Linked DNA regions of Homo sapiens: region 2 is linked to region 1. Evidence: fine-mapped expression QTL. A gene starts in region 1. The other region holds a variant in brackets. All regions are shown on one strand. Distances are from middle to middle. Region 1 holds the start of ATP6V0E2-AS1 (ATP6V0E2 antisense RNA 1). Region 2 has its middle 110 kb from the start of ATP6V0E2.

Region 1 (5,352 bases):
GAGTGCAGTGGTAAGATCTTGGCTCACCGCAACCTCCGTCTCCCGGGTTCAAGCGATTCTCCTGCCTCAGCCTCCTGAGTAGCTGGGACTACAGGCACGCGCCACCAGGCCTGGCTAATTTTTGTATTTTTAGTAGAGACGGAGTTTCACTATGTTGGCCAGACTGGTCTCGAACTCCTGACCTCGTGATCCACCCACCTCAGCCTCCCAAAGTGCTGGGATTACAGGCGTGAGCCGCCACGTCTGGCCTCTCACCTAGTGGTTCTAAGATGGCTGCATTCCAGTCACCTGGGGGCATTCATGAACAACAGGAATTCCCAAGTGCAGATCTCGAGAGTTGTAATTTCATGGGTGTAGGGTGCAGCCTGAAAACTGTGTTTGAACAATCACTCCAGGTGACCCAGTCAGGCACAGACAGCACTGAGGTGGCCTGCCTCCTTCCTTGCCCAGGTGAGAAAACTACAGCCCATGGGGGCCAGAACTCTGGGGGCAGAGCCAGATCCAGAGCCCAGGGTTCATGACTTCTGGCCCACTGCTCTCTTTCCCATTCCACACCACCTCCACTCCTGTTGTTTTATAGGTTCAGCCTTTCAAGAGGCATTTACTACCAGGACAGAAGGAAGAGCAGGCTAGGGTGAGGAGGAAAGGAGGGAGGACAAAGGAACTGGCTGACTTTGAGCTGGGGAGAGTAGTACTTACAAGAGGTAACAGCAGACGGCGGTGGCGACCAGCATGGTGATGATCACTCTGCAGCAGAAGAGGACACGGGTCAGAACAAATGCAGCCAGCACCTCACAAGGCCTGGCCAGGACCAGAGCAAGAAGAGCTCCTGGTGTGAGCTCTTTTCCATTGGCCTTCCTGATGCCTCCTGGACACAGGAGGCTGAGTTCTACTCAGGGTAAGAATAGCAAGGCAGAAAATAAAAACTGAAAGTGTCACCTCACAGAGAGGCCAACCTTGACCACATCCAAGTTGCCTTAAGAATCCTTCCCTTCATTTCCCTTCTCTACCACCCAATATTGCTCCATCTTAATGCAGACGTGTTGTGGAAAGGCACTGCACAGAGCTGCATTTGTGGCAACCCAACAGGGAGTGGTCTGTAGAATTCAAAATTCATGGAGCAAGGGGAAGGAAAACAATAGGCTAGAAGACAGGGCAAGAAGCAGGCAGACTGTGAGCCAGTTCTGAGGCCCAGTGAGTTGTTACAAAGAGAACAGGGACTAGCCACTTTGCGTGTACTCAGAGAAGACCAGAGACAGATGCTTCAAGTGCAGCAAAAGAAATTTCAGTCAAACTGAAGCAAGAACTCACCAAGAATAGCAGGAGACGCAAGACACGAAAATGGTTTACAAAGTGAAGCTGTGGGATCCCAAACCCTGCCTGTCTTTAAGAACAAAGGCAGCACTCACATGTCCAAACGGCCTTTGGGCAAAGCTAACTCTAATCCAAACGAGGCCCTTGATCTTTGATCTAAAGCACTGCAAGCTGGTGCTGGACACAGGAGCACGCGATCCCTTTTTCAACATTACTAAGCAGGTTGTGCCAGTCCTGGCTGGGCACTGAGTAGACAATGGTGAACTGGACAAACTCCAGCCCCTGGGAACATGCAGTCAAGGGAAGGGTGCTTTGTAACTGAAGATAATATGAAGCAGAAACTGGTGAATGGCGCAGCAATCTGCTAGAGGACCTTCGAAAAATAACGCCAGCTAAACTTATCCCATACCTACAAAGTGTCACGCACTGGTAGGTGTTTTAAATGCGTTACCGCAGGTCATCCTCACAGCAGCCTTTTAAGGCAGGAGTCGACATTATCTCCATTTTACCCATGAAGAAACTGAGACTTGATATTGGCTCTAGGTCACACAGCTAGCAAGGAGTGGAGAAACTGCGTCAGTGCCCACTTGTGCCCTTTACTGGCTGCAGGAGGGGTGACAGACATCTCCAATGTCACTCTCCTCTTTACCTTCTGGATATGCCCTCTCGCCCCACCTCCTGCCTGTTCCCGGCTGTCAGAGACCCAGGTGCAGAGAGACCTCAGAGGTGGCGTCCGGGGTCCTGGCGTCCCTCCTGCGGACGCTCGCTGCAGAGCAGGAAGCCGCCGCCCCGGGGCGGAGGGGCGAGCCGGGCCAGGGGGCCGGGGTGGAGAGGTCTGCAGGGCCTGCGCGCTTTCCTTACCCGCGGTTGGGTCCCTTCGGCACGAACCAGGGCCCGGCGATGCCGACGAGGCCCCAGAACGTGGTGAAGATGATGACCGGGAGGGCGAATGAGTGCGCCGTCATGGCCGGGCGCAGGATGCCCAGGCAGGATGCAGGGCCGAGCAGCGGGCGCTGCAGGTGCGCGGGTCCCCAGCCGGGCAGCGCGCTGAGCATGCGCAACAGGAGTCGAGCACCCGAAGCGATCAGCCGGGCCGGGCCGCGCACGCGCATCTCCTGATCCAGCCCGCCGCGCTGTCACTCAGGACCTGCCTAGGAGCCCACTCGCTGATTGGCTGAGCAGGGCCGCGGACAGAGAGAAATGCCGAGGAATAGGGGCGCGGCCGCCCGGTTTCGGCGATGGGTTATAGGGTCCGCGTCAGCCCCGCGCCCGCACAGCCAACGTCACGCCGCATTCTTATTTCCAAAGACCCCTGGAGCTTGGGGTCCCACCCCAGCGGTCTTTCGGGGCGTCCCCTGCCCTTCACGCGCCGCGCCGGCTCGGCCCGAAGCGCCCTGCGGACCCGCAGCCTGGGCCGCCCCGAACCTGACGGCCCCGCGGGGGTCGGACGCGGGAGGAACGGCCTCGCTTTCAGAGACGCAGCGGGAGGGCGGTCCCCGCTGTCCCTCTGGCCGGGTCCTCAGCACGCGTTCTCCTCACTCCCAGGACTAGCGAGCGGCGGGCGCGGACCGGGGCCTGGGGTCGGAGGCGGCGCAGCCAGAAAGGCCCCAGCGGCGCTGAGACGTTTGGGGGAAGGCGGGGGCTTCGCGTTTCGATGGCGGGAAGCGGAATGAGGTTGGACCGGCCGGGCCGGCGTTCAGGGACCCGGCGGGAGGCGGAGGGCTGGCGTCCTCGCGGACATCCATCTGCAGCGAACCAGGCAGAGGCTTTGGGATTAGATCCTTGACTCCTTGCGTCAGTAGTTAAGGTTTGTTTAAATATAAAATGGGATGGCCCTTCTTACAAGGTTGCTGGAGGATTAAATGAATAGGCATGTGGAAAGCACCTAGTATAATAAGGCTCGGTAGTTTCTTCCATCAGGGCTGGAAGAGACCACGGAGCCTGCTTTCCTCCTTCGGCGTTTGGATCTCACATATCCCTTCTTCTCTGGCGATCAAAAATCCCTATCTTCTGTAGAGATCCCTTTTACAGATCAGTGGCCTCCAGGCGGTATCTCTAGCAACAAGTGCTACCCCAAGCGGCCGGCCACACATATTCCCTGGCTTCATGACATAGGGAGGCGCAGTCCCCACGTGATGCAGAAGGGAAATGTGCCTGTCCTTGCACTGACCCCGTCAGCCATGTGTGCTCCTGGCTGTTTTCTGAAATCAAGAACCAGTTACATCCGCCCTTCTCCGTTCTCTAGTTGAAACCTCCCTATCCATCCTTCCAACATTCATGTAAGTTGGAGGTGGGCGTGGGATGACACCAAACTGTTAGGTATAAAATACCATCCTAGCCTTCGAGGGGTTTCTAAAGTAGTTGAGGAGTGATATATTCTGGTAAAATCATAATGCTGGACAGCGCAGTTCTAAGAGCCCTGTGATCAAAGTAGCCAAATGCCCATTATGAGAATTCAGAGGGTGGAGAAATCCAGGAAGACTCCCTGGAGGAGGTGAGATTTTAGCTGGATTGTAAACAATGGTTATTTTTCTCATCCAGAGTGTGTACATTGTTGAGAACACTGGCCTAGGATAAGGGTGCACTTGGCATCCAGGAGATAGAGTTAAGAGTATGTCCATACAGGCCTTCAAAAAATCACCACGAGGGCTGAGCGCAGTGGCTCACACCTGTAATCCCAGCACTATGGGAGGCAGAGGCGGGCGGATCACGAGGTCAGGAGATCGAGACCATCCTGGCTAACACGGTGAAACCCCGTCTCTACTAAAAATATAAAAAAATTAGCTGGGCATGGTGGCGGGCACCTGTAGTCCTAGCTACTTTGGAGGCTGAAAGGAGAATGGCGTGAACCCGGGAGGCAGAGCTTGCACTTGCAGTGAGCCGAGATTGTGCCCCTGCACTCCAGCCTGGGGGACAGAGTGAGACTCCGTCTCAAAAAAAAAAAAAAAAAAAAAATCACCACGAAAGTTCTATAGCTCAAAAAAGACGGACTTTTTGAATTTTGTTCTGGAAAAAAAAAAATCCTCTGTAGAAAATGACAGCTGTAAAGTGAAATGTATTTCCTTCTTTGCCTCTGCTCCTTTGTCTTGGCTTTGGCCAGAACCAAAAACATTGCTGAGTCTGAGCAGCCACTCATATTAGCAGCCTGCAGCTCTTACTCTTTTCCTTTAATGTCTTTGATGTTTCATTTCTGTCCTAATTTGCATGTGATTGCCTGTGTCATTTGTTTGGCAGCTTTGTGATGGTCTGAGGTCCATGAAGGGATTAAAACCAGGAACTGGCTCCTTCTCCAACCACTAAAGCCTCATCTGGGCCCACAAGCCCTGGCTGTTCCCTGGAGCGTGACTGGAAGATGTGAGCAGCTTTGTGCTGGAGCCCCATTTCCATGGGTAAACTGTTCACCTGATCAAACAGCTCCCCAGAGTTCCACAGTACCACATATTTATTTTCTAGAACTTTGTTTTTAGCTGAAAGGGATCTTAGAGGCTAAGGCAATCCTATCACTTTACAGGTGATAAAACTGAGGCCCAGAGAAGTGAAGTAACTTGCCTAGGCCCACACAGCTCATCAGTAAAAGAGCCAGAACACATGGCCGAGACTTCTCCCTAATCCAGCGTCTCCTCCACACTCCCAGCTCACCCCTAGGGTTTGTGCCCAGGCTGAGGACACTATTTTCAGAGGCACTAATGTGAGGCAAAGGGCATGTTACCAGACACAGCCCCGCCTACCCCGGTCCCCTGAGGTGGAGCTGTGCATTCCACTGGCTTCACGGTTCCCCTCTGCCCTGGCGGCTTCTGGTTGGTATTGGCGCCACCGACTGCTCTGCCATGGCTCCTCAGTGAGTGCTTTGGGTGTGATTGACAAGTTTCCATGACATCTCCCAGGGAGTGGGGTCCTGATGTTGGTGACATCTCTATCGTTCATCTTTTCATGGGGCTGATGAATTCCTAGAAAGGGTAGAAGGAGAAGGAGCCACTGAAAGAGGCTCTTTAAAACTTCCCTGAGTGTCCCCCAGTGCAAATGAACAGGAGCCCCAGG
Region 2 (5,375 bases), 110 kb before region 1:
TGAGGGGCTCAGTTTCTTAAGAGGAGGAACAGAAAGGCTAGGTCTGGTCTCTGCATCTCCAACCGCTAGGCCAGGCGTTATATCCTTGGTGCGTGTTTATAGAATGTGATGGTAGACATGGAGTGTGGTGGGGTGAGCAGAGCAGATGTGATTGACATTCTGGTGAAAAGGCTGAGCAAACACAGGACCCACTGCTCTGTCCCTGCACTGGGCTGCGTGCTGGAGATTCAGTGGCCACTCATGCTGCTGCTGTGTTCTTGTGGAGGTAAGAGGCAGTGGGTAGAGGAGCAACAGGTGATATGTGAATGCTCCTGACTTTGTAGGAAATGGGAAAGGGGCTGATGGGTGGGGGTGCACGTGGGTGAAGGAGGTCTGGGAAGGTGTCTCTCCTGAGAAGGCAGCAGCTGGGCTGGGAATGAAGGGTGCAATGGAGCTCACTGACAACCCAGGCACAGGTGAGAGCAGGTGCAAAGTCCCTGGAGAGAAAAGAGGCTGAAAGGCTGGAGGAAAAATTGAGACCCGTGTGGGGAGGGATGGATGAAGGTTCAGATCAGGGGCCTCCGGAAGTGAGGGAAGGAGCAACGCACTGACGCCGAGTGCTTTCAAGCAGGGGAGTGCAGAGAATGGATTTCACCTTGAAAAGTGAATGTGGACCATAACAAGTGTTGGCGAGGATGTGGAGAGAAGGGAACCCTCACACAGTGTTAGAGGGAATGTGAGTTTTACAGCCATATGGAAAATAGTGTGGAGGTTCCTTAAAAAAAATCCAAAATAGAATTACTGGATGATCCAGCAATCCCACTTCTGGGTTTAGAACCAAAGGAACTGAAATCAGCTTGTCAAAGAGACATCTGCACTCCCATGCTCACTGCAGCACTGTTCTGGATGGCCAGGATATGGAAACATTCCCTGTGCTCATCCACAGATGAATGGATAAGAAACGTGTGGTGTATGCACACAATGGAATACTATGCAGCCTTAAAAAAGCAGGAGAGTCTGTCAATTGTGACAACATGAATGAACCTGGAGGACATTGTGTTAAATGAAATAAACCAGGCACAGAAAGACAAATACCACATTATGTCACTTGTGTAGAATCTTAAAAAGTCAAAATTACAGAGGCAGAGACTAGCTCAGGGATGGTTGGGGGTGGGTTGGGGAGATGTTGGTACAAGGATATAAAATTTCATTGGACAGGAGGCATAAGTTTTTGAGATCAATTGCACAACATGGTGACTATATTTAATAATGTAAAGTATGTTTCAAAAATTGCTAAGAGAGTAGATTTTAAATATTTGTACCACACACCCACAAACATAAGTCTGTGAGGTGATATATATGTTAACTATCTTGATATAAGCATTCCATATGTGTATATGTATATCAAAACATCATGATGGACCCCATGAATATATGCAATTATTATTTGTCAGTTTTAAACATTTTTTTTAAATGAACATGGAGGTTGGGGAACCTTACCAGGGTTCTTTTGGTCTCTGCCTTGCCTGGGGCCCAGAAGTGGTGGTGAGGGGTTGCTCCCTACTCTGGAGCTCTGGATGCTGATCAGAGACCCTCCATGCCTGGTGACATCTCAGACTCAGTGAACAGCCTCAGGGGCCCTTCACAAAACTGGGCTGTCAGGGCCACCTGGAGCTCAGAGTGGTAATTTGGTTTCATTTGAACTTCAATTTTCGTTGCTTTGAAATCTCATTCAGTTGAATTTAATAACAAATAAATAATTCATGGGGACTGGACAATGAAAGGAAAATTTAAAAATGTGTTCACCCAAATATATAAAGGGGCACCTTGTCCCTCAGCCCTGTTCTCTACCTTCTTTTCTCAGCTGGCTTCTGGGCAGATTCATGGGGCCAAAGGATGATGCATTAACTCTCTCAGGGTGCTGAGGGTTCTCTCATCATGAGACTTCTGTGGGTTAGGGACTGGGCAAGAGGTGAGCAAGTATCCCACCTCTGGCAGGCCAGCCTCTCAGCCACCAATTTGCTAAGTGGCCCAACGGTCATCTCTGAGCCTTCTTTCCTTGCTTGTAAAATGCAGAAATCTTTAGTAAACCAATTGATGTAGGCAAATGTC[A/G]TGAATGGATACACAGTCATCTCAGGGAATTTACATGGTGCTAAAGTATCACTCCAGGGATCATCTGCTGGTTGCAAGGGGAGAAATGTGACTTTATCCTGGAGAACACCGATGCTCTCCGCCTTATCAATTCCTGCATCCCTAACACTGGGACAAGCAGATATCCTTCCATGCCCCATGCGGTGCTTAGCATCACCTGTGAGGTAATGCCAGAAATGTGTGAGCTGAACTTAATCAAGCTCTTAGGTCTAACTTTCAGTGCGTAACTAATACAGGCTGCAGAGCGTCCAGCTAATGCACACCAGGAGGAAACAGCCAGACAAATCCAGAAGGTGGAAACGTGGAGGCAACAACTCGCCCATTCCTTCCAGCAAGCCAGCAATGTGCGGTGGGCTGGGGAGCCACTGGGGCAGACACGTTCTAAGTTGAAATATACGTTACCACCAACCAAGGGCAATTCCTGGGCCTTGGCTAAATCCTTACCTATACAAACCAGCTATACCAGTCATTTTAGAGTAATTGGGGAAGTTATTACATGAGATTAGAAAATTGTATTCAGTTTTTAAGTGTGAAAATGTTCTTTTTCTTTTTTAAAAAAGCTTTTATTTTAGGTTCAGGGGCACATGTGCAGGTTTGTTATATAGATAAGCTTATGTCATGGGGGTTTGTTGAACAGATTCTTCTTAATTATACAGGAAAACGTCTAGAACTTGTGGTCTCTCTTCTTTAGCGTTGCTCACTGAGATTTTTTAAAAAGATGCATCCTGAATGATTTCGAGGCATGATGTTTTGGTACCTGTATGCAATTGAAATAATTTTTAAAATAGATATGGAGAAAATATGAAAACTAACAATTTTCAAAATTTTAATGAGGAGCATATGAAAATTATACTCTAGTATGCTGTTACTTTTCTTTTCTTTTTTTATTTTTTATTTTTTCTTTTTTGAGACAGTCTTGCTCTGTCGCCCAGGCTGGACTGCTGTGGCACAATCTCAGTTCATTGCAACCTCTGCCTCCCAGGTTCAAGTGATTTTCCTGTCTCAGCCTCCTGAGTAGCTGGGATTATGGGGCACCCACCACCATGCCCAGCTAATTTTTGTATTTTTAGTAGAGATAGGGTTTCACCATGTTGGCCAGGCTGGTCTGGAACTCCTGACCTCAAGTGATCCACCCGCCTCAGCCTCCCAAAATGCTGGGATTACAGGCGTGAGCCACAGCGCCTGGCCGCTGTTAATTTTCTAATCTTTAAAAATAATAATAGTTTTTTAAAAAGCTGCTCACAAAGATTTTATTGATGATGTGTGCATTTTTTTTTCCTCTGGTAGGACATAATTCTCCCTGAGAAGGGGAAAGACAGTAAGAATTTTGTGAGTTGCATAATAGTCCATTGATTACCCTTTGTCCCCCAGTGGAGGGCACTAAACCCCTGAAGAAGCAGGCCCCTGTGTGGGCGTGTTATGATTGTAGAACAAGGAGAGGGGACCCTCCAGTACTCAGTGTCTTTAGTGGGTGGGGCGGGGGCTTCAAGGCAGTAGCCTCAGATACCTGCGGGGCCCATGCAGGGAACCCTAATTGGGGTGCAGGGTGGGGGAGCAACAGAATGCAAAATAGCTCTTAGTACCTTACCTAAATATTGGTTGCTAGATTTTTTCATTGACTGGAAGCTTTCATTTGGCTCTGGATAGAAGTGTGGGCAGTCACACAAGTCAAGGTAAGAGGGGTGGAAACTGGTTTTTGCTGGTGCTTCCTAACATTTGTCAACTGTGGCTTTCAGGCTACCAATGGGTGGGGAGTTTTGTGCGAGAAAATGGGCCAGATTTGCATCCTGGTGTTCTCCAAATGATGTTAAATGCAGAAACATTCAATGCAATGAGTTTGTTCAATTCCATCCAACTAAAAATTGTGTTTGTGCTATTAGTGCCTACCCTCTGATCAGTCTTGTACTAGGTAGGAAACATGGTGCTTACCCTTTACTAAGGAGTTGTGTTACACGAAACAGAAAACACTATGACTGAATCAAAAAGAAGCATCACTCTGCTTGGGTAGTCAGGGAAGAATCTTGATTTCCCCTGGAATCTGGTACTTACCTCGCGGTGAATACACAATAACAGCCAGAGTTTTAAAATAGACAAGAAGGACAGAAATCAGAGAGAAACACACAGACACATCAGACCCCTTATCATAAGGTACAAACAGTAGAGCAGAAGGGAGACCACAAACTTCCATTCTTTATGGGATGAGCGAGAAAGGGGATGGAGGCTTTGGCAATGTTGAGTGGGTTTTCCACAGGAACAGCCAGCCCCAACTGATGTGTAGTGATTTCCTAGGAAGTTTGCAAACCTCATCCCACCAAGAGGAAATGGGTCGGGAGTTCTCCATCATCTGGAGGTCACAGAGCAGACAGACCATGGCCCAGGACAAGATCTAGAAGTTGTTATTTTATTCAAAGTCAGAAAACCTTCCAGGGTCTGGGGATCAGTGTCTGGATAGAAGAGAAAATACAAGAGAAAGCAAGAGGTTAATGTGGGCTGAAGGCTTAGAATGAGCAGTTTTAGGATAAAGGATAGTTAGGAAAGGATGGGGGATGGAGAGGAGGGTGCATGTGAGGCAGGACAAACCAAAGAGAAAGACCTGAATGTATCTGCTATGTCTGTGGGACATAGGGAGGTTCTGTTCATTCTGAATGGGGACTTCGAGCTCAAGCCTAAAAATGCATCCTTTCAAATGGGTACAGAAAGAAGGGCTTTGACAAGTACCATGGGCTGTGCTTGATTGAAAGGACAGACACATTCAGTTGTTGTTATTTGTGATTATTGTCAGCTCCATCATTGATGGCACTGTGCATTTTTTGAAGTAGGTCTCTCCCATCAAACTGCCAGGATTCCAGTGATCAGAGAGCACGTGTTCAGTAGCACAAGCTGGATTGGGTGGTGCCCACTCCCGGCTCGACCACTTAGCTCTGTGGTGCCTTGGTATCCTCATCTGTAATGTGGGGATAATAATGGTGTCTGTCTCATAAGAATGTTTTGAGAAACAAATGAGAAAACCCAAGTCAAGCTCTTCTAGAAGTGCATGGCAGATAGTAAACAGTCAATCAACATTATCAGTCCTATCACCGGTGTGGGTACTGTTGAGATACCTGTGAGAGTAAATCATGATTTATGCAAATGGTTAATGGAAAATATTTATTTTAGTTATTTTCTTATCTGGGTAGTGCCAGATGGGATAATAAAAATGAAAACAGGCAGGGTTTCGTGTGTGTGTGTGTGTGTGTGTGTGTGTG

The links. PIP is the estimated chance that this variant, and not a neighbour inherited with it, causes the effect. A credible set is the group of variants that fine-mapping cannot tell apart.
Region 2: its variant is the best candidate, but not a certain one, in a credible set for the expression of ATP6V0E2-AS1 in nasal epithelium (TOPMed, PIP 0.53).

Annotation. Positions count from the first base shown.
Region 1 is chr7:149,870,993-149,876,344 of GRCh38, reverse strand. It overlaps ATP6V0E2-AS1 (ATP6V0E2 antisense RNA 1), which reads left to right and starts at 2,483. Exons shown (of 4, transcript NR_027040.1): 1 at 2,483-3,121; 2 at 4,549-4,703. It overlaps ATP6V0E2 (ATPase H+ transporting V0 subunit e2), which reads right to left and starts at 2,376. Exons shown (of 4, transcript NM_145230.4): 1 at 2,176-2,376; 2 at 700-747. The coding sequence starts at 2,279. RefSeq lists silencers at 1,940-2,119, 2,530-2,609, 2,640-2,849 and enhancers at 2,140-2,279, 1,609-2,577.
Region 2 is chr7:149,985,227-149,990,601 of GRCh38, reverse strand. It overlaps a transcript of ACTR3C not described here. Among named protein-coding and RNA genes, the nearest start is that of ATP6V0E2, 110 kb to the right of the region's middle. The variant A/G (reference allele first, on the strand shown) is at 2,092.